Linked DNA regions of Homo sapiens: all the other regions are linked to region 2. Evidence: fine-mapped expression QTL. A gene starts in region 2. Each other region holds a variant in brackets. All regions are shown on one strand. Distances are between the middles of the regions. Region 1 has its middle 15 kb from the start of HSDL2. Region 2 holds the start of HSDL2-AS1 (HSDL2 antisense RNA 1). Region 3 overlaps HSDL2 (hydroxysteroid dehydrogenase like 2).

Region 1 (10,199 bases), 120 kb before region 2:
TGGCTTCCTAAAGTGTTACGATTACAGGCATGAGGTACAGTTTCTGGCTCACAAGGATTTCTCAGGTGATTCTGAGACAGGGTGAGCTGTCTTGTGGGTAAAGGAAATGGAAATTTTTAAGAGATGTGGGACTCTCTCAAAGCCATTGAAATCATCTGCTCTGAGTCACATTATATTGTTGTTGGCCTCTGACCATCAATTTGTAACATTATTTTTCACTGGAGAAGCCTAAAACATCTTAAAACTCAAATGGAAAAATTTCAATGGCAAGTTATAATACGACTAACAGTAGGTTACGATCCATTAATGAGTCACCAAACTTATTTAGTAGGTTAGAATCAACTTTTTTTTTTTAACAAGGCAGACAAGATTCAAATAAAATAGAATAAAAACTTTGTACTGGGTCTGAATAAATAATTTATTTCCTTTTGTGGGTTGTGGTCAAGAAATTGGAAGGTTACTAAATTACACACTTTAAAAAATGGATTATTATGCAAGCTCAGGGTTAGGAGAGTCCTTATTTGATAACTTAAGCTTAAAGTTGTTGTCAGTGTCATATCCTTTAATATTTCAATTTGATCAGGCATTTTCAATCTCCTATATACTTGAAAATTACTTTTTAACATTGGAGAATTAAACTTCATAGACTTTATTTATTTATTTATTTTTTGTTTTTTTGAGACAGAGTCTCACTCTGTTGCCCAGGCTGGAGTGCAGTGGTGAGATCTTGGCTTACTGAAACCTCTGCCTCCTGGGTTCAAATGATTCTCTTGCCTCAGCCTCCCAAGTAGCTGGGATTACAGGCCTCCACCACCATACCTGGATAATTTTTTTGTATTTTTAGTAGATTCGGGGTTTCACCATGTTGGTCAGGCTGGTCTTGAACTCCTGACCTCAGGTGATCTGCCCATCTCGGCCTCCCAAAGTGCTGGGATTACAGGTGTAAGCCATGGCACCCAGCCTAAACTTCATAGACTTTAGAAGCCACAAAACAAGGGAAGATAACTTTGTCCATTTTATGGTAATTTTGAAAACGTTAATAATATAAAATGGATTGGAGTATCATATCCTGTTTTAATGATTCAAAGCATTATTTTCATTAAGACATTTAAATTTCTACCTTATTTTCCTTTTTTGAGAGCTATAGAAAACTTTGTTATTTTTGCCTTAACCCAAGTCAATTATTATATCACAATATTGTTAATAAATTAACATTTTGTGGCATTATACAATTTTGAATTTTAAAATAACAGTGCCACCTGGTGGTGACTCTAAACATGTTTTTATTTCTCTTCGGTATACATACCAAAAAGTGGAATTGCTCTTTTGACTGTGGACATTCGGGAACTAGCAAGTGTGTTTAACCTGAGAGACTGCCAAACTGTTTTTCAAAGCTACTGAACCATTTTATACTTCCACCAGTAACGTATGAGGGTTCTAATTTCTCCACATCCCATCCGACACTTGTTACTTTCCTTTTTTTTATTATAGTCAACCTAGTGGGTGTACAGTGGAATCTCATTGTGGTTTTGATTTGCATTTCCCTAAGTAATGCTATTGAGCATCTTTTCATGTGCTTGTTGCCATTAGTATATCTTCTTTAGAAAATTATCTATTTGGGGACAGGCATTGTGGCTCACACCTGTAATCCCAGCACTTTGGGAGGCTGAGGCAGGAGGATTGCTTGAGTTCAGGAGTTTGAGACCAGCCTAAGCAACATGGCATGACCCTGTCTCTACAAAAAGTATGAGTCTGTAGTCTCAGCTACTCAGGAGGCTGAGAGGGGAGGATAACTGAGAGGGAGAGGTTGAGGCTGCAGTGAGCCATGGTTGCACCTGAGCAACAAAGTAAGACCCTGTCTAGCAAAAGGAAAAGAAAAAATATCTATTCAAATCGTTGCCCATTTTTTAGTTGGGTTGTTCATTTTTCTGTAGCTGTTGTAAGAATTCTGTGTATATATTGGACACTGGAGCCTTATCAGGTATATGATTTATAAGTATTTTTTCTCATTCTCTAGGTTGTCTTTTCACTTTCTTGATAGTGTCCTGGGATGCACAAATTAATTATTTTAATTCTTATGAAGTTCAATGTATCTTCTTTTTTTTCCCTTCTGTGGCTTGTGCTTTTGGTGTCATATTTAAGAATCCATTGTCAAATCCAAGGTCATGAAGATTTACCCTTATGTTTTCTTTCAAGAGCTTTATAATTTTAGCTCCTACATTTAAGGTCTTTGATCCATTTGGGGTTGATTTTTAGAGCCATCTCTTACTCACCATCATGGCCACCATCAGACCCCTCATGAAGCCCAAGATCATCAAAAAGAGGAGCAAGAAGTTCATTCACCACCAGTCAGAACAATATGTCAAAATTAAGCATAACCGGTGGAAACCCAGAGACAACTGCGTTCATAGAAGATTCAAGGGCCAGATCTTGATGCCCAACATTGGTTATAGAGAAGCAATGAAAACACAAAGCACATGCTGCCCAGCGGCTTCTGGAAGTTTCTGGTACGCATTGTCAAGGACTTGGAAGGGCTGCTGACATGCAGAAAATCTTACTGTCCTGAGATAGCTCACAATGTGTCCTCTGGAACTGCAAAGCCATCATGGAAAGGGCAGCCCAGCTGGCCATCAGAGTCACCAGTCGCAATGCCAGGCAGCACAGCAAAGAAAGGGAATAGACAGCTCATGTGCATGTTTTGTGTTGAAATAAAACCATAAAAACTGTGAAAAATTAATTTTCATATAATTTTTGAGATGGAGTCAGGGGGTGGGTCCAAACTCATTCTTTTATGAATAAGAATATCTAGTTAATACGAATATCTGGGGCTGGGCTTGGTAGCACACGCTTGTGATCTCAGAACTTTGGGAATCTGAGGAGGGCAGATCTCTAGAGCCCAGGAGTTCAAGCCCAGCCTGGGCAACATGGTGAGACCTGTCTCTACAAAAAATACCAGCCTGTAGTCCCAGTTACTCGGGAGGCTGAAGTGGGCCGACTGCATGAGCCCAGGAGGTTGAGGCTGCAGTGAGCCAAGATCCACACACCAATGCACCTCAGCCTGGGCTACAGAGCAAAACTGTCACACACACACACACACACACACACACACACACACACACACACAAAGGCTATTCTTGACCTATTAGTCTTGGTATGCTTGCTGAAAATCAATAGAGCATAAGTGTATCAGTTTATTTATTCTATTAATTGATCTATATGTCTATCCCTATGCCAATACCACATGGTTTTTGCTTTTGTTTTGTAATTATTAGACTTGATTTTTTAGAAGAGTGCTAGATTCACAGAAAAATTGAGCAAAAAGTACTGAGAGTTTCCACATACTCCCTCCTCCACCATTAACAGCCCCAGTTGGTATGGTAAATTTGATATAATCAATAAACCAACATTGACATATCATTATCAACCAAAATCCATAGGGTTCACTCTGTGTTGTACCTTCTGTGAATTTTGACAAATATATAATGACATATCTGTAACATTATGGTATCATACAGAATAGTTTTACTGCCCTAAAAATCTTCTGATCTCTGCCTATTGATCCCTCCCTCCTCACTAACTACCGGCAAACACTGATCCTTTTTACTGTCTCCATAGTTTTGCCTCTTCAGAATGTCATATATTTGGAATCATACAGTGTGTACCCTTTCCAGACTGGCTTCTTTCGCTTAGTAATATGCATTTAACTTTCCTCCATGTCACTGTGGCTTGCTAGGTCAGTTCTTTTTTTTTTTTTTTTTTTTTTTTTTTTTGAGACAGGGTCTCACAGTAGCAAGATCTTTAAAAACAGGCAATAAAAGTTTAATTTGATAAGAGAATTTCAAGAAGACAAAAAAAAAGCCCTAGTTATTTGCAAAGCAGAAGAAAAGCAAAAGAGCATACTAACCTTTTATAAGTATTTTGGTAAAGAAAAGTACCAGGGGGCCAGGCACCATGGCTCATGCCTGTAATCCCAGCACTTTGGGAAACCGAGGTGTGTGGATCATTTGAGCCAGGAGTTCAAGACCAGCTTGGGCAACACAGCAAGACCCTGTCTTTACAAAAACTATAAGCCTGTAGAACCAGCTACTCGTGAGGCTGAGGTGGAAGGATAGCTTGAGCCTAGGCGTCTAAGGCTGCAGTGAGCTATGATCACGCCACTGTACTCTAGCCTGTGCAACAGGGCAAGACCCTGTCTCTATTTTTAAAAAATTAAGAAATTTAAAAAAGAAATATTGTGAGAATTAGGAAAATATGACAGAGACACAAAGTGAGGACACATTATTGGAAAAATGGCACCAATTGACTTGCGTGACACAGGGTTGACAGAAATATTCAATTTGTAAAAAATGCATTATCTGTGAAGTACAATAAAGTGAAGCTCCATAAAACAAGGCATACTTACATACATTACCACTAACTAAGTCACTATGTTGTATATTAGATTTCCAGAACTTACTGACCCTATCTAACAGTTTCAGTACCGTGTAATCTACATATCTCCATTCCTCCACCCCCACCACAACCCAGCCTCTGGCAGCCACCCTTCTATTTGCTGCTTCTACGTGTTCAACATTTTTAGATTCCACACATAAGTGAGATCATGCCTTTCTGTGGCTGGCTTATATCACTTAGCATAATGTCTTCCACGTTCATCCATGTTATCACAAATGACAGGATTTCTTTCTTCTTTAAGGCTTAATAGTATTTCATTGTATATGTCTATCTATCTATCTATGTATCTATATATGTATGTATCTATCTATACATATGTCACATTTTCTTTATCCATTCATCCATTGATGGACACTGATATGGTTTGGCTCTGTGATCCCAGGCAAATCTCATCTTGTAGCTCCCATAATTCCCATGTGTTGTGGGAGGGACCCAGTGGGAGATAATTGAATCATGGGGGTGGGTCTTTCCCTTGCTGTTCTCATGAGAGTGAATAAGTCTCATGAGATCTGATGGTTTTAAAAATGGGAGTTTCCTTGCACACACTCTTTCGCTTTGTCTGCTGCCATCCATGTAAGATGTGACTTGCTCCGTCTTGCCTTCCTTCATGACTGTGAGGCTTCCCCAGCCATGTGGAACTGTAAGTCCATTAAACCCCTTTCTTTTGTAAATTGTCCAGTCTTGGGTATGTCTTTATCAGCAGCATGAAAATGGACTAATACAGTAAATTAGTACCAGTGGTGTGGGGTGCTGCTGAAAAGATACCGAAAAATGTGGAAGTGACTTTGGAACCGGTAATAGACAGAGGTTGGAACAGTTTGGAGGGCTCAGAAGAAGACAGGAAAACGTGGAGAAGTTTGGAACTCCCTAGAGACTTGTTGAATAGTTTTGATCAAAATGCTGATAATGATATGGATAATGAAATCCAGGCTGAGGTGGTCTCAGATGGAGATGAGAAACTTGTTGATAACTGGAGCAAAAGTGACTTGGGTGCTGTTACAGGCATTCCATTTTATAAGGGAAGCAGAGTTCTGAAAATTTGCAGCGTGACAATGCGATAGAAAAGAAAATCCCATTTTCTGAGGAGAAATTCAAGCCAGCTGCAGAAATTTGCATAAGTGGCTGGGCACAGTGGCCTGTAATCCCAGCACTTTGGGAGGCCAAGGTGGGTGGATCATGAGGTCAGGAGTTCGAAACCAGCCTGGCCAACATGGTGAAACCCAGTCTCTACTAAAAATACAAAAATTAGCTGGGTGTGGGGGTGCATGCCTGTAGTCCCAGCTACTCAGGAGGCTAAGGCACAATAATTGCTTGAACCCAGGAAGCGGAGATTGCAGTGAGCCAAGACACACCATTGCACTCCAGCCTGGGCAATAGAGTAAGACTCTGTCTCAAAAAAAAAAAATTGCATAAGTAATGAGGAG[C/G]TGAATGGTAATTCCCAAGAGAATGGGGGAAATGTTGCCAGGGCATGTCAGAGGTCTTCATGGCAGCCCCTCCCATCACAGGAGGAAAAAATGGTTTCATGAACTGGGTCCAGTGTTCCCAAGCTGTGTGCAGCCTAGGGACTTGGCACCCTGCTTTCCAGCCACTCCAGCCATGGATGAAAGGGGCCAATATAGAGCTTGGGCCATGGCTTCCGAGGGTTCAAACCCCAATCCTCGGAAGCTTCCACGTGGTGGTGAGCCTGCAAGTTCACAGAAGATTTGGGGTTTCTGAACCTCCACCTAGATTTCCAAAGATGCGTAGAAATGCTTGGATGCCCAGGCAGAAGTTTGCTGCAGGGGTGGGCCCTCATGGAGAACCGCTGCTAGGGTAGTGCAGAAGGGAAAGGTAGAATCAGAGCCTCCACACAGTCCTTAGTGGGGCACCACCTAGTGGAGCTGTGAGAAGAGGGCTACCGTCTTCCAGGCCCCAGAATGATAGATCCACTGACAGCTTTCACCATTCACCTGGAAAAGCTGCAGACACTCAATCCTAGCCTGTGAAAGCAGCCAGGAGGGGGGCTATACCCTGTAAAGCCACAGGGGTGGAGCTGCCCAGGACTGTGGGAACTCACTTCTTGCATCAGCATGGCCTGGATGTGAGACATGGAGTCAAAGGTGATCATTTTGGAGCTTTAAGATTTGACTGCCCTGCTTTCTTTGTGGTTACCATGAGCCTAACATAAAATATCTTATCACAGTCTATTTTAAGTTGACACTAGCTTAACTTTCATCACAAGAACTTTGCATTTTAACTTTTCTTCCCACATTTTATGTTATTGATGTTACAATTTGTATGTTGTCTATCCATGACCAAATTATTATAGCTATATTTTAATACATAAAAAAACTTTAGACTACAGTTAAAAGTGATTTATGTACCCCCATTACTATATTAGAGTATTCTGAATTTGACTATTTTTACCCTTACAGTGAATGTTATACTTGCATGTTTTCATTTTGTTAGCTATTATTCTTTTGTTTCAACACAAAGAACTCCCTTTAGCATTTCTTGTAAAGCAGATGTAGTGGTGATGAACTCCCACAGGTTTTTTTGTTTGTGTTTTGGGTTTTTTTGTTTTGTTTTGTTTTTTGGCTAGGTTCTTATCTCCTTTATTTCTGAAGGACAGCATTACTGACCTTCAGAACAGTATAGTATTGTTAGTTGGCAGGTATAGTATTCTTAGTCAGGTATAGTATTGTTAGTTGCCAAGTTTTTTCATCTTTCAACATTTTGAATATATTCCCATGGTTTCCTGGCCTGCAAGGTTTCTACTGAGAAATGCAATGATAATCTTATGATGGTTCCCTTGTATGTAATGAGTTCCTTTTCTCTTGCTGCTTTCAAAATTCTTTCTATCTTTGACTTTGATGATTTGATTATAATGGGCCTCAGTGAAGATCTCTTTATATTTAATCTATTTGGGATTCTTTGGGTTTCATGGATTTGGATGTTCATTTCCCTTCCCAATTTGGGGAGTTTTCTGTCATTGTTTCTTTAAATAAGTTTTCTGCCCCCTTCTCTTTCACTGTTCCTTCTGGAACTCCCATAATGTATATATTAGTTTGTTTGATGATATCCCATGATTCCTGTAGGCTTTCTTCAGTTTTTTTTTCTTTTTGTTCTTTTCATTGTTGTTGTTGAGACGAAGTCTCACTCTGTCACCCAGGCTGGAGTGCAGTGGCACAATCTTGGTTCACTGCAAACTCTGCCTCCTGGATTCAAGCAATCCTCCCACCTCAGCCTCTCTAGTAGCTGGGACTACAGGCATGCACCACCATGCCTGGCTAATTTTTGTATTTGTATTTTTTATTTTTTGAGACAGAGCGTCATTCTGTTGCCCAGGCTGGAGTACAATGGTGCAACCTCGGCTCACTGCAACCTTTGTCTCCCAGGTTTAAGCGATTCTTGTGCCTCGGCCTCCTGAGTAGCTGGGATTACAGGCGTGCGCCACCACACCCAGCTAATTTTTGTATTTTTAGTAGAGACAGGGTTTCGCCATGTTGGCCAGGTTGGTCTCGAACTCCTGACCTCAAGTTATCCACCCACCTTGGCCTCCCAAAGTGCTGGGATTACAGGTGTGAGCCACCGTGCCCAGCCCAGGTACCTTATCTTCAGGGAGCACACTGTGAAAGGAATTCTTTATCAAATCTTGGCTTTTTTTTTTTAAGGTGATAAATGATTCCCTCACAATATTACAATATAACTCCCTTGAGAAAAGTTGGATTGGTTATTTTCATTCCCATACACATGGGCCTTCCCATTATAATTTCATAAGGGGACAATTGATGTTTTCCCAAAGGGATGGATTGGAGTGTATGCAGCACTAGTGGGAGTGCTTTGGGCCAGGGGAGATGAAATACCTCTGTGAACTTAGCCAATTTGCATAAGTAACGAGGAGCCAAATGTCAATTATCAAGACAACGGGGGAAAATGTCTCCAGGGCATGTCAGAGGTCTTCACGGCAGTCCCTCCCATCACAAGCTGGGAGACCTAGGAGAAAGAAATGGTTTCATGGGCCAGGGCCAGGGCCTTGCTGCTTGGTGCCCTGTGCCCCAGCCATGGCTAAAAGGGGCCAATGTACAGCTCAGGCCATTGCTTCAGAGGGTCCAATCCCCAAGCCTTGATGGCTTACACGAGGTCTTGTGCCTGCAGATGCAAAGAGGTGAGGAATTAAGGATTGGGAACCTCCACCTAGATTTCACAGGATGTATAGAAACACCTGGATGTCCAAGCAGAGGTGTGCTGCAGGGGCAGAGCCCTCATGGAGAACCTCTGCTAGGGCAGTGTGGAAGGGAAATTTGGGGTGGAAACCCCTACACAGAGTCCCCACTGGGATACTGCTTAGTGGAGCTGTGAGAAGAGGGCCACCATCCTCCAGGTCCTAGAATGACAGACCCACTGACAGCTTGCACCATGTACCTGGAAAAGTCACAGACACTCAACATCAGCCTGTGAAAGCAGCTGGGAGGGCGTCTGTACCCTGCAAAGCCATGGAGGTGGAGCTGCCCAAGACCATGAGAACTCACCACTTGCATCACTGTGACCTGGATGTGAGACACGGAGTCAAAGGAGATTATTTTGCAGCTTTAAGATTTGACTATCCCTCTGGATTTTGGACTTGCATGGGGCCTTTAGCTCCTTGATTTTGACCAATTTCTCCCATTTGGAATGGGTGTATTTACTGAATGCCTGTACTCACATTGTATCTAGGAAGTAACTAACTTGCTTTTGATTTTACAGGTTCATAGGTGGAAGAGGCTTGCCTTGTCTCAGATGAGACTTCAGACTATGAACTTTTGAATTAATGCTGAAATGAGTTAAGACTCTGGGGGACTGTTGGGAAGGCATGATTGTGTTTTGAAATGCGAGGACAGGAGATTTGGGAGAGGCCAGGGACAGAATGATATGGTTTGGCTGTGTCCCCACCCAAATCTCATCTCAAATTGTAGCTCCCATAATACCCACGTGTTATGGTATTATGGGAGGGACCCAGTGAAGGTAACTGAATCATAGGGGCCAGTTTTCCCATGCTTTTCTCATGATAGTGAATAAATCTCATGAGATCTGATGATTTTATAAAAGGCAGTTCCCCTGCACACACACTCTTGCCTGCCACCATGTAAGACATGCTTTTGCTCCTCCTTTGCCTTCTGCCATGATTGAGAGGCCTCCCTAGCCATGTGGAACTGTGAGCTTATTAAACCTCTTTTTCTTTATAAATGATCCAGTCTCAGGTGTTTCTTAATAGCAGTATAAAAATGGACTAATACAATGTTTCTGCAAGGGAACAAATGCTGGAAAATCCTCTTCTACCATCTTGCTGATGTCACTGCTCCCACTTTTGATTACTGTAACCTTATAGTAAGTTTTAAAATATGGAAGTGTGGGCCAGGTGCAATGGCTCATGCCTGTAATCCCAGCACTTTGGGAGGCTGAGGCAGGTGGATTACTTGAGCTCAGGAGTTCAAGACCAGCCTGGACAACATGGCAAAACCCTATCTCCACCAGAAATACAAAAAAATAGTGGTGTGGTCATGCATGCCTGTGGTCCTAGCTACTCAGGAGGCTGAGATGGGAGGATCACTTGAGCCCAGGAGGTGGAGGTTGCAGTGAACCGAGATTGCGCTACTGCATTCCAGACTGGATGACAGAGTGAGACCCCGTTTCAATTAAAAAAAAAATCTGGAAGTATGAGTCCTCCAATTGTGTTGTTCTTTTTCAAATTGTCTTAGCTATTGGGGATGTCTCACAAGTCCACATTA
Region 2 (10,199 bases):
CTCGAGAGGCTGAGGCATGAGAATCGCTTGAATCTGGGAGGCAGAGGAGGCTGCAGTGAGCTGAGATCATGCCACTGCACTCCAGCCCGGGCAACACAGCAAGACTCTGTCTCAAGAAACAAAACAAAACAAACTTCCCCTCCCAGTGTCGTTGAGATATAGCCCACTTGTTCATCTTATAGACTCCCAAACGCAACACATCCCTCAGCTGACCATGAAAAAACCTAATGGTTGACTGAGGGCTGTAATCCCAACACTTTGGGAGGGTGCGGCAGGAGGACTGTTTGAGGCCAGGAGTTTGAGACCACCCTGGGTAACACAGTGAGACCCCTGTCTCTACAAAAAGAAAAAAAAATTAGCTGGGCGTAGTGGCCCACATCTCTAGTCCCAGCTACTCAAGAGGCTGAGGCATGAGGATCGACTGAGGCAGGGAGGTAGAGGATGCAGTGAGCTGAAATCACGCCACTGCACTCCAGCCTAGGCAACAGAGGGAGACCTTGTCTCAAAACAAAACAGAACAAAACAAAAACCTAATGGTTAACACCAGAGTCTTGGAAATAAGTTCCTCTCCTTTGTGCATGTGTTTTTTAAGGGCATAATGCCTATAGACCTAATAAAAGCATAATCTCACAGGTCTCCTTTCTTCTCTCTTTCTCCTCTACTCCTCCTGAGTAGCTGGAACTAGAGATGTGGGCCACCATGCCCAGCTAATTTTTTTTTCTTTTTGTAGAGACGAGGGTCTCACTATGCTACCCAAGGTGGTCTCAAACTCCTGGCCTCAAGCAATCCTCCTGCCGCACCCTCCCAAAGTGCCGGGATTATGGCCCTCAGCCAACCCACTAGGTTTACTGTGATTGCTTTCTCTAGGATCTTCGTTTTTCAAGTCCTAGCTGCCTTAATAGACCTGACTCCAAATTTTGTATCTCCAGGCCAGTAAGACTGCCGGTAAGCTCTAGGGTGCTTCTTTCTGACTTCTACACTCCTAGACACAAATCAACAATGCCCTGAGAAGGAAAAGCGGCTGAGAATGCAGGACTCACTTCAGAGTATTTCTCTTCTTCCTGGGGGGCTCGTGGACTCTCAAGCCTTGGATGACAGGGTTGCTCTCCAATTGTTTTAAACAGACTTATTTATTTTTTTAAACAGCTTTCATCGTTCTCAGTGGCAGAGTTAGTTTGTTCAACAAGGTACCTCATCATGGTTGGATGCCTGCATCATTAAAAAAATTCATTGTAGTGAAATATCCTTTAAACAAATAAAATTAGATTTGTTTTGAAGTTGATTGTGGCAAAAACAATTTAAAATTTACCTTTGTAACTACTTTTAAGTGTACAGTTCGGTGGTGTTATATTTACATTATTGTGTAACATCTCTAGAAATTTTTCATCTTGCAAAATTGAAACTCTGTACCCAGTAAACATTATATCACCATTTTCCCCTCCCTCTACCCTCTAGCAACCACTATTCTACCGTCTTGTTTCCACAAGTTTGACATAATCCCACAGTTTACATACCTCTACATAGTTCATATAGGTCAAATCATAACAGTATTTGTCCTTTTGTGACTGGTTTATTGCACTTGGCACAACATCCTCAAGGTTCATCTATGTTGTAGCCTGTGATAAGATTTCCTTCCTTTTTAAGGCTGAATAATATTCCATTATATGTATATATCACATTTTCATTCATCTCTTCATCTGTTGATGAACATTTGGGCTGCTTCAACCTCTTGGCTATTGTGAATAGTGCTGCAATGAACATGAATGTGCAAATATCTCTTCGATATCCTGCTTTCAATTCTTTTGGATATTTACCCAGAAGTGGGATTGCTGGATCATATGGTAGCTCTAGTTTTAGTTTTTTGAGGAACTTCCCCACTGTTTTGCATAGTGGTGGTACCATCTACATTCCTATCAGCATTGCATAAGAGTTCCAATTTCTCCACAAGATCCCATCTTTAGAATATGCAGCAATTAACTAGGGGGTTTTCATTTTTGGTCTTTTTTGTTTGTACAAACATTATTGTGTCAACATTTACACAGATTTTAAATTTCAGCCTAGACCTGGAAGAGTGTTGATAGAGGAAGGTGTTAAGAACATCAACCGGAATCAGCTCTAGAGATGGAGAGGGGTTGGCAGAAGCTACCTAAAAGAGAACATGCTTGATGTGGTAATGAAGTTACCTGCTTGGATTCTGGACGACCCTGGATATTTTCTCCTTTGCTAAGAAGTTAGCTTCTTTCTCTCCCTCAAAAATATTCTTCTCTTCCCTTACCTACTCCAAGGGTACAAGTGACTGGGGTATGCCTGTCACAGATGAGGTGAGGCCAAGATGTGGGCACTACGTAAGGCCTGACAGATATGGTGTAAATGTTATTTATTACCATGATTACTGTTTTGGAGATGGTCAGTGCTGTAAATAGAAAGGGAGTTAAGAGCAGACTCTGAAGCCAGACTGTCCGGAATGAATCCAGGCTCCTCTAGCTACTATCTATGTGATGTTGAAAAAATTTCTTAATTTCTCTGTGCCTCAGTTTCCTTATCATAAAATGGCAATGTTAATAGCACCCACTATGTAGAGTTCTTAGGATTAAATAAATTAATATTCGCTAAGTACTCAGTGCAAACTGTGGGCACACAGCAAGTACTACGAAAGTGTTAGGTAAAATAAAGGTGGACCAAGCCTGGTAGCACCTAGCAAGTCCAGCTTCATCTTTGCTGTGCTGAGTCGTGTAGGTGGTGTTCTTGTGTCTCTGGTTTGCTGGAGGACCTAGTTTTAGTGTATTTTAGGTATCATTAAGCATCCCCGCTCCCTCGATGGGATAGGGGTGTGTGTGTTACAGGTGGTTGTTGGGCACCTTCACGGGGCAGCGGTGACTATGGGCTGTACGTAGTATCTCGGTAGAAAGTGTTAATGCACATCCCTGGGCGGAGAGGTAACTCTACTCAATGCGTTATAAGGGAAATCACACACCTCACGGATGGTGTAGGTTCTGTCTGCTCCTTGCGTTTCAGTGGAGGTGCACAGAGCTCCGGGGGGCATCGGGGACCGCGGGCCCAGGACGTGTAGTAGGGAGCAGTGCTGTACACTTCCTCGGACCATAGCGGGGACGGCGGGTTCCACACCTGTCGGGGCAGTAGGGACTGAGCTCGTGCGCGCGGAGGATGGATTGCTCCAACCTCTCGGTCCAGCGCGCCGGCCGCCGCGTGCGAACGTGTGTGCGGCAGGAGGCTCGATCTACACCTCCTCGGGGCAGCAACGACTGCGAGCTCGGTGCGTGCCGTAGGAGGTGTCGTTACACACTTCCTGTGGGTCTCGCCGACCACGGCGCGTTTCCGGTGCCGGCTGGAGCCCGGGGTCCGAGCCCCCGCCCCGCTCGCCGGCCCCGCCCCGGCCCGCCCGCGCCCCGCCCCCTGCCCGCCCGCCGCGCTCCGAGCCGGGCGCGCGGAGCTCGGGGCGCACGGAGCGGCGCGCGGCGGTCGGCCGAGCCAGGCTGGCGCCCCCGCCCCCCGCCCCGCTCCTCGGTCCGCCGCCCGCCGGGCGCCTTCCCCGCTCCACTTACCTTTGGTGCCCGGCCCTCTGGCCGCTCTCCTCCCGCCCTCGCGCCCCTTCGGCCCGTCCCGTCCAGCCCGGGCTGCCCGGCTCTCGCAGGCCCCCCCGCGCCGACCGCGTTCCTATGGACAGACGCACAGACACCTGCAGGTGGGTGAGAGCCCGCGCGCGGGGCGGGGACGAGTGCGCCGACGCCGCGACCCAGGCGGGGAGCCCCTTTGTGTGGGGGGCGGCCGCGCCGGGGTCGACTCTGCTTCCCCGTCAGCGGCCGCGCGGTGACCCGGCTGAACCTTCCTTTTGTCTCCTCTCGGGGGAGCGAGGCCGGAGCGAGGGCAGGGACCCGGGCGGCCGCTCGTCGGCAGCGCCGGGCTTGGGGGTGCGAGGCGCAGAGACCCCCGGTGGCGGCTCCGGTCCGCCTGCCCCGGGCCGCCCCGCCGCCCGGCAGCTCGGGTCTCAGCGGCGGCTGCAGGCGCAGTGCGTGGGGCTGGCGCCCCCGCTCCTGCTCTTGGGTCTGTCGGAGGTGGGAAGGAGGGCGGGAAGGAGGAGGAAAAGGTCTGTCCTCTTAGTTTCCAAGTCTTGAGATGCTTATGGAGAAAGAGAGGTGGTTCAGGGCTCTGCCCCACTAGTTTTCCTCCTCGGGTGGCTCGCCGAGGTGCGTTTGGGGCGTGTGTGAAGGAACGTGCATGGCTTCGCTCCCTTATTTATTGTTTCTAACGGAGGAGGGCTTTCTCCAAAAGGCTCTTCCGCCCCCCCACCCCCATCTGAGGCTGCGCACAGTGATTTGTGTTTGTTATCAAATATATCGAGAAATGTATTCCCCTGGGTAGGAGGAGGTTGGACTGAACAACGTCAAACCAAAATCAAAGAATGTTTTTGGTTCCTTCAAGTCTTTTTTTTTCTTTAAGGTTTTAGATTGGGACTTTAAAAAAAATGAACGTGGCTGTGATTTTTACAATTATATGTATTTAGTGTGTGTGCGTGTGTGTGTGTGTGTGTGTGTGTGTGTTTTGAAGTTTAGGAGTAAAGTTTTGTTTTTTCCCGAACTCGTTAGGATTCGCAAGACGGAATCCTCTCCCGACGAAATAAACAGCTAACAAGCCAGTCAGGTAGTGACAGCTTCCATGGTGGAGGTTAAATTGGAGTGCAATAAACAATGATCTAGCTTTCCCTTCAGGCTGAAGCCTTTATTTCTGCTGATTTAAGATATGAGATCTTTCCCTACCCATGAGACCATGAATGTCAGAATTGAGTTTCCCCTCTAGGATTGTGCCTTTACTATTTTATTCCACGTATATAACCCAACGATTGGGTTGTGCATGGATATGGATACAGTGTTTTGAAAAATACTGTAGGGTGATGTTTCTGAATTGTCTTATTTGATTAGCTAGCTAAGTTTCTTCATGAACGGTTGCTGTGTATTGTAGATACTCAAATAATAAATGAGGTTGAATAAGCACCCAGAAAATTAATTTTACAGATTCAGATTTTTAATACGCAGGTATGGATTTATGCCTGTATCAATCTCAATCTACTGCTCCGTTCTGGAAACTCTTTTTTGCCCACCCTGTGAGAATTTATATTGACAAAGTTAAGTCTGACAGTTACCCAGGAGATTAAAAAAACGAAGAAGCAGTTTTGGGGGCCATGCATACAATTATATGGACAGTCATATGTAAAAAATAGAGGTTTTCCTAAAAAAACAAAAAGCATTATCATCTAAACTTGAAGGAAAAACGTGGAAAATTATGTATTTAAATTTTCATTAAGGTTTGAAAATTAGTAAACAGTGTACAATTTAATGCACTTTTTTAAAGACAAACTGATTTTTGTCATTATAAAAAGTTTAGTATGCTTAAAATAGTGCTTTTTTCTAGGAGAAAAATTTATCTAGATTCTTGTCCCAGTTAAACAGATTAATATTATTGCATGCCTAATTTTGTAAATGCCTGGAGCGTAGATTTGTACACACATTACTTAAAACCTAGCAGTGATCAAGCCAATCCTTTTTAGTTGATAAAATTTTACTAGTTTCTGCTTTGACTTCCAGTCTGCATTAGGTAAATGAATTTAAATTCTGCACAGAAGCACAGCTCAGTATGTGGCTCTGGTAGGCCCTTGACTAGCGTTCCTTGTCCCTCTCCATTCCTAGTAATAGCCCAAAGAGAAGAGGTATTGAAATTTGATCAGGCTTTATCGTGAATCCAGGAATGGAGTTCTAGACCACTCTCAGAATTTCAGCACTTAGATATACGTACTCTTCCTTAGCTCTTTAAAATATTTAAAAAAGATAAGCTAACGATTGAATTGCTTGTTTATATATTTACAAGGCTGTCAGTGGTAGTGATAAGATTTAACAAAGAGTCACTGTGTAGCTAAGCATCGAGTGTGGCCTGTACTGAGAATTGTTTTGGCAAAGTTGTAGTTGTGCCTGTTTTCTGAGATCATCAATGTAGTCTTTATGTGGGCTGGCTGAAAGATAACACCTAGTTTTGTTTATGTTTTTGTGTTTTTTTTTTTTTGACTGATAGGTAGATAAGAATTTTTTGTTTTTTGTGTAATTAGCAATAATATTTTAGTGTGATCAGAAGCATTCCAGAGAACCTTACATATTTTCAGCTGATTTCCTTTCTGGTAAGTTGGTGTTGAGGAAAGCATATAAATTATTTTTCATTTTTCATGTTTGAAATTTTTTTCATTTATTTTGACAAATAAGTGCTGCTTCCAGAAAATTTGAATTTGTGTAAAACTGGATTTTTAAATATAGCTGACATTTACCACCTTCTCTTTTTAAAACAACATTAAGCCGTCCACAGTTAAATTTGATAGGCTTTAAAATCCATGGACTTTTCTAGCATTTTCCTGTTTATTGGTTATCAATGTAGTATCATTACAAGAAGCCTAAAATGGCCACTTTATGTTAACTGGAATGCTCAAATGACTAGTGTTTTCATTAGCAATAAATGGAAAGCTGAAAAGTAACAATTTTATTCTTTGTAATAGATCTGTGACTTTCAAGTCTTTCTTTTTGACATTTTTTTGTAGCCTGGTGGGGAAGCAGGTCCGGCTGTGAGAGGTGTGGACAGTGACCTCTCATTCCAGCTTTTATCATCATCCTGCATTGTTTAACAACAGCACCAACACCATGCTGCTTGCTGAAAATGCAGATTTCATTCTTGGATTAATATTCTGGTACCAGATGTATGAGGCTGGCTCTAAAGAAGCTTTTTCTCTTAAGTACTGTCAAAAATAGAGAAGCTGAAGATTGGAGAGAAGCCATTTATTTTGAACAGTTTATTTTCTGACAGTTTGTGTTTGTAAAGAAACCTGCTCATAATATTTACTTAAGAGATCTACATAGTTGCCTGAGGAAGCCCCACAGGTTTCTTTTTTTCCTTTAAAAAAAGTTTCCATTGAGCTTAACTCTTACGTGATACTTCTTGACTTTGCTTCTGATTAGTTGATTTATGGACTTTATTTACTAGCATGATTGGAGAATTCTTTTGCTAGACTGAAATTGCACTCTGCCTGTGCTCTGGTCCGTTTCCTAGGTAACAAATGCACTGCATAGATTCCATAATGAGGACTGTGGTTGGCTAGTTACTGTGTAAATTCTGTTGTTTGGTAAAGCTTAGTCTCAAATTCAAATAAAGGTCAAGAAACGAAAAGTACTGAAAATGCAAATTTTTGAATTTTATTTTGTATCCAATGCCAACAAAGTTTAATAGGCTTTTCTGGAGAAAGGCAAATTATGCAGCCGTATTCAAGTTTGTTTTGCAAAGTCTTACACTTAAACAGTTGGAGAGCTTTTTCACCGTTAGTGTTCATAGTGGTAATGCTAATGGCTCTAGTGACAAAGAAGATGTATTTCAGAAACATGTTATTACACTTGAAAATAATATGGAAAGCAAAGAATCTTGGTCTAGGACAACAGTGATATTCTTATACTGAAAGGAAGTAACATTATGTATCAAAAGAAATTATACAACTTTGATGTGAGATATAACATTATGTTTTTTAGAGACACAGTCGCACTCTGTCACCCACGCTGGAATACAGTGGTGCAACCATAGCTTACTGCCTCTTCAAACTCCTGGGCCCAAAGGATCACATCTCAACCTCCCAAGTAGCTGGGACTACAGGCACGTGCCATCACACTTAGCTAATTTTTCTTATTTTTTGTAGCGATGGGGTCTTGCGGTGTTGCCCAGGCTGGTCTTGAACTCCTGGACTCAAATGATCTTCCTGCCTTGGCCTCCCAAAGTGCTAGGATTATAGGTGTGAACCACCACGTCCAGCCATAACTTTAAAAAAGTTTAAGAAGACGTTAAAACGTTGAAGCAATATTTAAAAACATTAAAAATCTTACCATAAAATGCTGAATTTCTACTCTAGCTTTTTTTCTTCTCTGCATGAACTTTGGCCAACCTAGCACCAGGGAGTAGCTCCCCCCTTGGTTGCTGCAAGTTAGAGAATAGCTTTCTCCTTCACCTTACTCTCCTCTGGAAATCTATGGCCTCTTTAGCTCCAGAGATAGGACAAAAAGTAATATGTATGGAATGGCTAGTAATTATTAGCTGGTTTTTTTTTTTGTTTTTTTTGTTTTTTTTTTCCTTAAGAAACCTGCAAAGAACCAAAATTCCATTAAAACCTACTGGAAATATATTTTCACTTGATGCCTGAAAATGTTTTTTGTTTGTTAATCATCAAGGATTTCATTAGCTGAACTTAACATACACATAACTCTTTTTAATTCTAAATAATTATCCAAAGTTGCTTCCATTGCTTTCCCTTGCTTCTCTGGATTGTTTTTAGATGATTCATTTACTCTTTGGTTAACTTTCATTTCATGCATAGGATACTTCTTGGTTGGCTTCTCTTTTTATTCTTGGTTTTCTTCAAAACTGATACTGCTTTAACCTTTTCTGTCCTTTTTTAATTGCAAATATTCTGTCCCTTCAGTTTTTTCTTATATTTTCCTCTGGAAATACTTATTATTTTAAAAATATTTTCCTTGCATGATTTAAGGCATAATCACCATATATCAAAAGCTCTATCCTTTTTTCTGTTATAGGACTTCATATTTCTGGGACGGAGTTGACAATATGTGTGAATTCTTAACCAGCTAGGACTACTTCCTCTTCTCAGCTTGTATTAATTTGTTAGGGCTGCCATAACAAAGAATCACAGATTGGTTGTCTTAAACAACAAAAATTTATTTTCTGACAATTCTGGAGGCTAGAAGTATAAGCTCAAAGTGTTGGCAGGGTTAGGTTCTTCTAAGGCCCCTCTCTTGGCTGATGGATGGCTGTCTTCCTAAGGTGGCTTCACTTGGTCTTCCCTCTGTGTATGTGTGTGTCCTAATTTCCTCTTAAGAACATCACTTACATTGGATTAGGGCACACACATATGACTTCATTTTACCTTAATTACCTCTATTCCAGGCCTTACTTCCCCTATAAGTCACATTCTGAGGTACCAGGGTTTAGGATGTGAACAGATGAATTTGAGAGGAATACAGTTCAGCCTATAACACAGTCCATCCCTCTACCTACTGCCTTTCATGCATGTATACCTACCTACCTACATATGTACATACATACCTCACTCCACATGTGGGATTTTGTTGGCAATTTTTCACTTGAATCCCAGGCCCCAATACATAGCAATATGATCAACTCTATATATAGTCATTAAAAATAAAGTAGCTAAAGGCTTTTTGTTTTTCACTCTTCATATTCATTGTTTTTAAATGCTTTATTTTTAATGACTTAAAGTACAAAATCCTTTTTTTGTTTGTTTGAGACAGGATCTTTTTCTGTTGCCCAGGATGGAGCGCACTAACGTGATCACAGCTCACTGCAGCCTCGACCTCCTGAGCTCAAGCAGTCCTCTCACCTCAGCCTTCTGAGTAGCTGGGATCACAGGTGCACACCCAGAGCCCAGCTCACTTTTTTTTTTTTTTTTTTTTGTAGAGATGAGGCCTGTGTGTCCCAGATTGGTCTTGAACTCCTGGGCTCATGATATCCTCCTATCTGGGCCTCCCAAAGTGCTGGGATTACAGGCCTGAGCCACTGTGCCTGGCCAAAATTCTTAATAGTTGTTTTGGAATACTGGAGAATATTATTGTGGCCAAATTCAGTGGAAGTGCTAATGCTGTTATTTTCTTCTGAGTTCTGAGGACTTGTTTCTTTTAGTGCTTTTTTTTTTTCAGCTATTGGTCTTGCTGCTCTCATGGTAAGTTATGCACTATTTGTTCTTTTCACGCATGTCTGATGATTCCTGAATCTAATATCTAGTCGGGGCTTTTCTCCTGAAATCCACATCTTTGTGTCCTACTACGACTGGATATATTCACTTAATTTTCCACAAGCATTTCACATTCAACATGCCCCAGACTTATTGTCCTCTTCACATCTGTGTCTTTTCTTTTATTCCTTAGCTCAGTGAGTTGGTACCACCTTCCATCCATTTTCCCAGTCCAGAAATTTAGGAGTTATCTCTGATTCCTTCTTTATTCTTAATCCCATTTTCCATACATAATCAAGCCCCTGGGTCAGTCAGTTCTTGCTGCCCAAGATTTCTCAATTCTGTCTGTTTGCCATATGTGAATCATATGCTACTGTGTTACCTTTGCATTAGTCTTAGT
Region 3 (10,199 bases), 100 kb before region 2:
TCTTCTGCTCGAAATTCTACCTCTGTTGTATATTAAATTCTTGCACATATAGCGCTCTGTTTCTGGACTTTCTGCTCTGCTACTTTAGTCTCTATTCATGTACCAGTACCAGACTGTTTACTTAATTAATTAATTGAGACAGGGCCTCGCTCTGTCACCCAGGCTGGGGTGCATTGGCACCATCATAGTTCACTGCAGCCTTGATCTCCTGGGGTTAAGCAGTCCTCCCAGCTCATCTTCCCAATTAGGTGGGACTATAGACATGCGCCATAATGCCTGGCTATTTTTAAAAAATTTTTTTGTAGAGGAGTCTCACTTTGTTGCCCAGGCTGGTCTCAAACTCCTGGGCTCAAGTGATCCTCCTGCCTCAGCCCCCGAAGTGCTAGGATTACAGATGTGAGCCACTCTACCCAGCCCAAACTATTTTAATTGCTCTAGTTTTACAAAATGTTTTAATATGTGGGAAAGCTAGTTCCCACCACATTTGGATTATTTTTCAGAATTTTCCTGGTTATACTTGGGTATTTATTTTTCCAAATGAAGTTTAGAATAATTTGTATAGTTTTTTGGAAACAGTTGTTCTTCCTTTTACTAAAAATTTCAGTACTTTTACCTGATTTTGGGGTACCAGAGAATTTTAGTAAATTAAACTGTAAGTTAGCTCTTCATCAGCAAGTTTTAGCCATCTATCAATAATACTAAGAAATTTGGAGCCTTCTTTGAAGTGCTCTTGCCTTCTATATTCTGGTACTAATGCTTTGGAGCTGGAGGACTTCTTACTGGCACAGATCAGGGTTATGTTTGCTTTTTTTTCTGCCAATGCCAGAGACTCTGAGTGAGGAAGAAAATGCCCTTTCTCCTACTGGGAATCAATCAAGCTATACTCAAAGCAAAGAGATATGGCTTTTTTTTACAGCAATAGTTGGGACATTTTCTTGTAAATACTTACATTAAAAATCACTTTAGCCTGTGGTCCCAGCTACTTGGGAAGCTGAGGTGAATCACTTGAGCCCAGGAGGTTGACGCTGCCATGAGCTGTTGAGGCTGTTGTGGTAAACTGAGGACCAGAGAGACCGATATTGGGAAGACAGGAGGATGTTTATTTAAGGTACTCACCGGCTCAGTGGATTCACATCCAAAAAGCTGAGCCTTGAACAAAAACAGAGTTTAGCTTATATAGGCCAGCATACAAGATCAAAACAAAGGCAGTAAATTTTACAGTGACAAATCACGTAATCCATAGCATAACTGCTGACCTGGCACTAACCTGTGGCCTTGCATAGCTAGTGGCCTAGCAGCTGCATCGAAAGAAAAACAGGAACTTTGCAAATCTTACTAAATACAAGCATTGGCAAACATAGTCATAACTAATAGTACAAGAGAGACAGTAAAGGAAATTGTTTTTCGTCTTTTAACCTTGCTCAGGGGTGTCTGGAGTTCATTTCTGCAGGCTAGGTCACCACGACCTGTCTACAGCCTTGCTTGCAGTAGTGAAAAACTTGTGCAAGACTGTCAAAAGAAAAACACAACAACAACAACAACAGAACCACTTTAATATTTTATGTATACTACCTTTTGTATGAAAAAAGGAAGGGATAGTTTTTCACATACATAGAGTGTTTTATATATATATATGTTTGCTTATGTTTGAAAAAAGTACAAAAATGATAGGCCAGAAATTAATGAAGCTGGTCACCTATAGGTAAGAGATCAGACTTCTTTTTTAAAAGTTTTTAAGTTTTATTTATTTATTTATTTTTTTGAGATGGAGTCTTGCTCTGTCGCCCAGGATGGAGTGCAGTGGCGCGATCTAGGCTCACTGCAACCTCTGCCTCTTGGGTTCAAGCGATTCTCCTGCCTCAGCGTCCAGAGTAGCTGGAATTACAGGCATGCACCACCACACCTGGCTAATTTTTTTTTTTTTTGACAGAATCTTGCACTGTCGCCCAGGCTGGAGTGCAGTGGCGCGATCTCAGCTCACTGCAGCCTCCACTTCCAGGGTTCAAGCAATTCTGCTTCAGCCTCCCGAGTAGCTGAGATTACAGGCACCTGCCACCACGCCTGGCCGATTTTTTTTTTTTTGTATTTTTAGTAGAGATGGAGTTTCACCATGTTGGTCAGGCTGGTCTCAAACTCCTGACCTTGTGATCCGCCCACCTCAGCCTCCCAAAGTGCTCGGATTACAGGCGTAAGCCACTGTGCCTGGCCAATTTTTGTATTTTTTAGTAGAGACGGGGTTTCACCATGTTGGCCAGGCTGGTCTTGAGCTGACTTCAGGTGATCTGCCCACCTCGGCCTCCCAAAGAGCTGGGATTACAGGTGTTAGGCACCATGCCCGGCCAATTTTTTTAATTTAATTTTTTTTTTTTAAATAGTAACATGGTCTTGCTATGTTGCCTAGGCTGGTCTCAAACTTGGGCCCAAGCAATCCACCCACCTCAGCCTCCCAAAGTGTTGTGATTACAGGCATGAACCACCATGCCTAGGCCTCAACTAATTAAAAAAATATTTTTTTGGTAAAGGTGGGGTCTCACTATGTTGCCCAGGCTGGTTTGTAATAATATATTTTAATTCTCTTTTTTAACCCCACAAGTATTATTTTATTATTATTGTACTCTTTCTAAACAAGATTTCTGTACTTATTTACCAATATCTTTGATTTTCCTATTTTCTTGAATTTCAGACCTTCCATCTGGAAACACTTTTCTTCTGACTGAAGTGTAACCTTTAGTAAATAAGGTGTAAGACAGGAAGAAAAAGTATTTGGATTATAATGAAATAAATAATGCTGTCGTTATTTGCCGATGATATTATCCTGCACAGAAAACCAAAATAATGTATAACTGAATTATTATAATTAATAAAAGTTTAAGAAAATTGCTATATATAAAAGTCAACAAATAAAAATAATTTTGAGCTTGGCATGGTGGCTCATGCCTGTAATCCCAGCATTTTGAGAGGCCAAGGTGGGAGAATCGCTTGAGCCCAGGAGTTCAAGACCACCCTGGGCAGCACAGTAAGACTCTGTCTCTACCAAAAAAAAATAAAAATTAACCAAGCGTGGTGATGCACACCCGTGATCCTAGCTATTCAGGAGGCTTAGTGGGAGGATTAGTTGAGCTGGGAAGGTCAAGTCTCCAGTAATCTGTGATTGTGCCATTGCACACCAGCCTGGGCGACAAAGGGAGACTCTCTCAAAAAATAATAGTAAGTTAGATTTCTACACGAGCAAAAATCTGCAAGAAGTATATAGTACATGTCAATAAAAATGAGAAGTTCAAAATCCCAGATATGGACTCCACTACAGGACATATGATGTATATTCTTCAGCAAATAAATGGCATAAAGAGTGGAAGGGAAGCTGGCAGTGATTAAAAGAGAAACTCTTAAGGTATAACAGCCAGATGTAATGTGAGGTCCTTATTGGATCCTGATTTGATCAGGCCAACCATAAGAAAAACTGAGATAGTTATAAAAGTTTGAACATAGACAGATATTGAGTGATATTGAGAAATTATTGTTAATTTTCTTGGGTATAATAATGACATTGGTATTTTAAAAGTTTTTATCTGTTAGAAAAGTAAATACTGAAGTATTCATAGGTGAAAGTATATAACCTCTGGGATTTGGTTTCTTTTCTTTTTTTTTTTTTTGAAACAGGGTCTCACTCTGTGGTTCAGGCTGGAGTGCAGTGGTGTGAAATCAGCTCACTGCAACCTCCGTGTCATGGGCTCAGGTGATCCTCCAACCTCAGCTTCCTGAGTAGCTGGGACTATGGGTGCGTACCACATGCCTGGCTAATTTTTGTATTTTTTAGTAGAGATGGGGTTTCTCTATGTTGCCCAGGCTGGTCTCAAACTCCAGGGCTAAAGCGTTCTGCCCACCTCTGCCTCCCAAAGTGCTGAGATTATAGGCATGAGCCACCATGCCTACCTAGGATTTGTTTTCTGATGATTGCTTTCACAATTTAGTAGTTGAATAAACATGGAAGCTTATTATACTCTTTTCTGGTTTTTTAAATGTATTTGAAAATTCCATAATAAAAAGAGTCTTCGTTTTTGCACTGATTGTTTATTGGTTGCAAGGGAAGGAATAGTAACTGTGCAGTGGAGAAATATGGTAACACTATGGTTAGATGATAAAAATTGACATTATAAAGTGAGTACGGATGGACGTTGTATGCTGCCCT[A/G]TGGGATATACTGAGGAAAATACAGTATCACATGTTCTGGTTGGAAATGCATAACCGGAATCTAATCATGAAGAAATATCAGTTGAATCCAAAATGAGCATTCAGCCAGGGGTGGTGGCTCATGCTTGTAATCCCAGCACTTTGCAAGACCAAGGCAGGAGAATCGCTTGAGCCCAAGCATTCAAGACCAGGCTGGCCAACATGGTGAGACCCTGTCTCCACAAAAAATAAAAAAATTAGCTGGGCTTGATGATGTGTGCCTGTAGTCCCAGCTACTCAGGAGGCTGAGGTGGGAGATTTGCTTGAGTCCAGGAGGTCAAGGCTGCAGTGAGCTGTGATTGCACCACTGTACTTCAGCCTGGGTGACAGGGCAAGAGCCTGTCTCAGAAAAAAACAAACAAAAAAAAACCCAGGCACAGTGGCTCATGCCTGTAACCCCAGCACTTTGGGAGGCCGAGGCGGGCAGATCACGAGGTCAGGAGTTCAAGACCAGCCTGACCAACATGGTGAAATCCCGTCTCTACTAAAAATAGAAAAATTAGCTGGGCGTTGTGGTGCGTGCCTGTAATCCCAGCTACTCGGGAGGCTGACGCAGGAGAATCACTTGAACGTGGGAGGCAGAGGTTGTAGTGAGCCGAGATCGCGCCACTGCACTCCAGCCTGGGAGACAGAGCTAGACTCCATCTCAAAAAAAAAAAAAAAAAAAATACGCCAGGTGTGGTGGCTTACACCTGTAATCCTAGCACTTTGGGAACCTAGGTGGGTGGATCACAAGGTCAGGAGTCCAAGACCATGGTGAAACCCTGTCACTGCTAAAAATACAAAAAAAAATTAGCCAGGTGTGGTGGTGCATGCCTGTAATCCCAGCTACTCAGGAGGCTGAGGCAGGAGAATTGCTTGAACCTGGGAGGTGGAGGTTGCAGTGAGCTGAGATAGTGCCACTGCACTCTAACCTGGGCGACTGAGTGTGACTCCATCTTGGAAAAAAAAAAGTAAGGATCATTATATTTTTTAAAAAAGGAGTGCAGACTGTATTTTTCAAAAGGTCAATATCATAAAAGACAGAAGAGGCTGCAAAAATGTTCTAGATTAACGGAGACTAAAGAGATATGTCAATTAAAAGCACTACCCTAAACCGGGTCCTGTAGTGGAAGGAAAAAATGCTCTAAAGGGCATTATTGAGTCAATTGACAAAATTAAAATACTGTGAAAGTAGATACATGAGAGACCAAGCTTTGATGTATTCAGATCACTTTTTTTTTTTTTCTTTTTGAGACAGGGTCAGTCTCTGTTTCCCAGGCTAGAGTACAGTGGTGTAATCATGGCTCACTGCAGCCTCAACCTTTGGGATCAAACAGTCTTCCTGACTGAGCCTCCCGAGTAGCTGGGACTACAGGCACACACTGCCACACATGGCTAATTTTTTAATTTTGTAGAGACAGGGTCTCACTATGTTGCCCTGGCTGGTTTCGACTTCTGGGCTCAAGTGATCCCCGTCTTGGTCTCCCAAATTGCTGGGATTATAGGCATGAGCCACTGCACCTGGCCTCAAATCACTCTTAAGTGGTTTGGAGAAAATAAGATATAGAGAAGGAGAAAGGGAGAAGGAGAGAAAATGAGCACAAATGCTAAATCATTGGGGTAAAATATTAACAATACATGAATCTGGGTGAAGGATATGTGAATATTTTTTTTGTACTATTATTCTTGCAACTTTAAATTTGAATTATTTACAAATAAAAAGTTGGAAAAAGTTAAAAACAATGGAGTACCTAGGAATAAAGCCAACAAAAGATGTATAATACCTTTCTGTAGGAAATTATATCATAATGAAATACATTAGAAAGACCTAAATAAATGGAATTATACCATGTTCATGGATTAGAACACTCACTGTCACAAAAATGTCAATTCTTTCCACTTTGAATTATAGACTTAATGTAATTTCTGTCAAAATCTCAACTGATTTCACTTGACCAGTTAGATAATGAGATTCTAAAATATATGTGGGCCGGGCGTGGTGGCTTATGCCTGTAATCCCAGCACTTTGGGAAGCCGAGGCCGGTGGATCACTTGAGCTCAGGTATTCCAGACCAGCCTAGCCAACATGGCAAAACCCTGTCTCTACTAAAAATACAAAAAATAGCCAGTCATGGTGGCGCATACCTGTAGTCCCAGGTACTCAGGAGGCTGAGGCAGGAGAATCACTTGAACCCAGGAGGCTGAGGTTGCAGTGAGCCGAGATCACGCCCCTACACTCCAGCCTGGGCAACAGAGTGAGACTCTGTCTCAAAATAAATAAATAAATAAATAAATAAATAAATAAAGTAAAAAATAAAATAAAATATATGTGGAAAATTAAAGGTCCAAATATAGACAAGAAACTCTTGAAGAAGAATAAATTGGAATCATTTGCCTTATCAGTTATTAAGACTGATAAAGCTGTTTTAATTAAGGCAGTGTGATCATGTAGATTAGTGGTACAGAATAGAGAGTCCAAAAGCAGATAATATATATATTTATGGACATTCAGTTTATGACAGAGCTGATATTGAAGAGCAGTGGGAAAGATGGGCATTTCAGACTTGGACAGTTGGTTATCTATGTAGGGAAAAAATGTATTAGTCCCTTACTTCAGTTCATACACAAAAATTAATTCCAGGTAGATTAAAGACCAAACTTATTAATTTATCTATTTAGAGACAGGGTCTCGCTCTGTCACCAAGCTGGAGTGCAGTGACATGATCATGGCTCACTGCAGCCTCGACCTCCTGGGCTCAAGCAATCCTTCACCTCAGCCTCCTGAGTAGTTGGGACTACAGGTGCACACCAATACACTGGGCTAATTTTTTTATTTTTTGTAGAGACAGGGTCTCACTATGTTGCCCAGGCTAGTCTTGAACTCCTGGGCTCAATCGATCCTCCCATCACGGCCTCCCAAAGTACTGGGATTATAGGTCTGAGCTACCACACCTGGCCTCAAGACCAAACTTTAAAGGGTAAACCATAAAACTTTTGAAATACAAATTAATCCACTTACAGGAAAAAAAGAATTTCTTAAGATTCCCAAAGCCCTGGCCATAAAAGAAAAGAATTATAAATTCTTTAACAAATTTTCTAGGCTGGACGCAGTGACTCATGTCTGTAATCCCATCACTTTGGGAGGCCAAGGTGGGCAGATCACTTGAGGTCAGGAGTTCAAGACCAGCCTGGCCAACATGGTGAAACCCTGTCTCTACTAAAAATACAAAAATTAGCCAGGCATGGTGGCACATGCCTGTAATCCCAACTATTTAGGAGGCTGAGGCAGGAGAATCACTTGAACCCAGGAGACAGAGGTTGCAGTGAGCCAAGATCACGCCACTACACTTCAGTCTGGGTGACAGAGTAAGACTCCATCTCAAAAATAATAATAATAATAATAATAATTTTCTATAATCCCAGTGCTTTGGGAGGCTGAGGCAGGAGAATTGCTTGAGGCCAGAAATTAAAGATGAGCCTGGGCGACATAGCAAGACCCTGTCCCCCCCCAAAAAATAAAAAAATTAAATTAACCAGGCATGTTGGCATGCACCCGTAGTTCCAGGTACTTGGGAGGCTGAGACAGGAGAATTGTGATCCCAGGAATAGGAGGTTATACTGAGTTGTGATTCAGACACTGCACTTCAGCCTGGGTGATACAGAAGACCCAATCTCTAATGATAAAGAATTTCTGCTAATCAAAAGACACTATAAAAATAGTGAAAAAGCAAGCCACAAATGAAAAGATACTGAAATGTATGTAATTTATAGACTTGTATGAGTCAATAAGAAAAAAGTTAACCTTATTTATAGAAAAACGGGCAAAACCAGCCAGGCTTGGTGGCTCATGCCTGTAATCCCAGCACTTTGGGAGGCGGAGGCAGGTGGATCACCTGAGGTCAGGAGTTCAAGACCAGCCCAACCAAAATGGAGAAACCCTGTCTCTACTAAAAATACAAAATCAGCTGGGTGTAGTGGCACACGCCTGTAATCCCAGCTACTTGGGAGGCTGACGCACGAGAATCACTTGAACCCAGGAGGTGGAGGTTGCAGTGAGCTGCAGCCTGGGCGACAAGAGCAAAACTCTGTCTCAAAAAAAAAAAAGAAAAGAAAAGAAAAATGGGCAAAACCAATTAATAGGAACTTTGCAAAAGAAGGTATTGGGGGAACCTGCCCCAAGTATTTCAACATAGGTTCTTTCTATTTTCCTTAAGTGTCGGCCAGCTGAGAAATAGAGACAGCACAAAGAGAGGAATTTTACAGCTGGGCCTCCAGGGGTGACATCACATATCAGTAGGACTGTGATGCCTGCCTGAGATTCAGACCAGAAAGTTTTTATTAAGAGTTTCAAAAGAGGGGGAGGTGTAAGAACAGGGAGTAGGTACAAAGATCACATGCTTCAAAGGGTGAAAAGCAGGACTACTAATAAGGGTCTAACAAAGATCACATGCTTCTGAGGGAACAGGACAAAGGGAAAAAGCAGAACCACTGATAAGGGTCTATGTTCAGTGGTGCAGGTATTGTCTTGATAAACATCTTAAACAACAGAAAACAGGTTTGAGAGCAGAGAACCGGTTGACCACAAATTTACCAGGGCAGAGTTTTTCCTCACCCTAGAAAGCCTGAGGGCACTGCAGGAGACCAGAGCGTATCTCACTCCCTCACTCCTTATCTCAACTGCATAAGACAGACATTCCCAGAGTGGCCGTTGATAGACCTGCCCCCAGGAATGCATCCCTTTTCCAGGGTATTAATATTAATATTCCTTGCTAGGAAAAGAATTTAGCAATATCTCTCCTACTTGCACATCCGTTTATAGGCTCTCTGCAAGAAGAAAAATATGGCTCTTTTTGCCTGACCCCACAGGCAGTCAGACCTTATGGTTGTCTTCCCTTGTTCCCTAAAAATTGCTGTTATTCTATTCTTTTTCAAGGTGTGCTGATTTCATATTGTTCAAACACACGTTTTACAATCAATTTGTACAGTTAACACAATTATCACAGTGGTCCTGAGGTGACGTACATCCTCAGCTTACAAAGATAACAGGGTTAAGAGATTAAAGTAAAGACAGGCATAAGAAATTATAAAAGTATTATTTGGGAACTGATAAATGTCCATGAAATCTTCACAATTTATATTCCTCTGCCATGGTTCCAACTGTTCCCTCCATTGGGGGGTCCCAGACTTCCTGTAACATCTCTCCCTTTCTTTTTATATAAATGAGCCATGGCGATGAAGGCTTGTTCGTTCTCTTGGTTTTGACGCAGGATTCGTTGACTGGTCTGGCACGCTAAAAAGTCGATTAAACAGAGAAACATGATTCCAAAATTTACTACAGTGGAGCCCCCAATAGACTTAATCCAAGTCGTGGGGTTTAGTCCAGAAAGACTTTCTGCCACCTGACCTAACGCCTCAGCTCCAGGCACAATGGATAAATAAGCTTGAGAGGCTTCAAAAATTATTGTCTTTAATTTAGTTACGTCCAAGGATAAATGATCTTCCCTACCCAGCAGGTGTCCTTTGACCATTTCCCATGACTCATCAGTCTCATTGTAGGAATATGGTGTGATACAGAAATCAGAAGTATTCCAGTCACACTGCACTTGCATGTGATATTCGAGACTCATTAGCCAATCTCCAAGCCAAATAACAGACTGTCTTAAATCGTTAATTTGATTAGCTAATTTTTGATCAATGCCCTGTTGAGAATTCCACATTTGGGTGGAATTGGCTTGCCAATCATTAACAAAATGAGCCACTTGAATAGATTGGTGTAACGCCACTCTGGCAGTGGTGGCCAGTGCAGTGACTGTAATTAGGCCCATGATCACAGCGATTAAAGTGAAAACAAATCTCTTAGATCTTTTGAGAATTTGCTGTAGCACTTCATTAATTAAATGTACTGAGGGGGAAGATTCCCAAGGTCTGGGTAAAGTTACTGGTATCCAGATTCCTTCTTGAGCTCGAACCAACATTACACTTTTCCTGA

What was found. PIP is the estimated chance that this variant, and not a neighbour inherited with it, causes the effect.
Region 1: its variant is fine-mapped to the expression of HSDL2-AS1 in prefrontal cortex (GTEx, PIP 0.93).
Region 3: its variant is fine-mapped to the expression of HSDL2-AS1 in anterior cingulate cortex (GTEx, PIP 0.96).

The regions. Positions count from the first base shown.
Region 1 is chr9:112,360,437-112,370,635 of GRCh38, forward strand. It overlaps a transcript of PTBP3 not described here and the pseudogene RPL32P22. Among named protein-coding and RNA genes, the nearest start is that of HSDL2, 15 kb to the right of the region's middle. The variant C/G (reference allele first, on the strand shown) is at 5,877.
Region 2 is chr9:112,483,416-112,493,614 of GRCh38, forward strand. HSDL2-AS1 (HSDL2 antisense RNA 1) reads right to left here and starts at 4,229. Exons shown (of 5, transcript NR_171779.1): 1 at 3,564-4,229; 2 at 2,975-3,126. KIAA1958 reads left to right here and starts at 3,412. Exons shown (of 4, transcript NM_133465.4): 1 at 3,412-3,703. RefSeq lists an enhancer at 2,891-2,950 and silencers at 3,381-3,440, 3,521-4,010.
Region 3 is chr9:112,383,585-112,393,783 of GRCh38, forward strand. The region is part of intron 1 of HSDL2 (hydroxysteroid dehydrogenase like 2); the gene reads left to right. Among named protein-coding and RNA genes, the nearest start is that of HSDL2, 8.6 kb to the left of the region's middle. The variant A/G (reference allele first, on the strand shown) is at 4,190.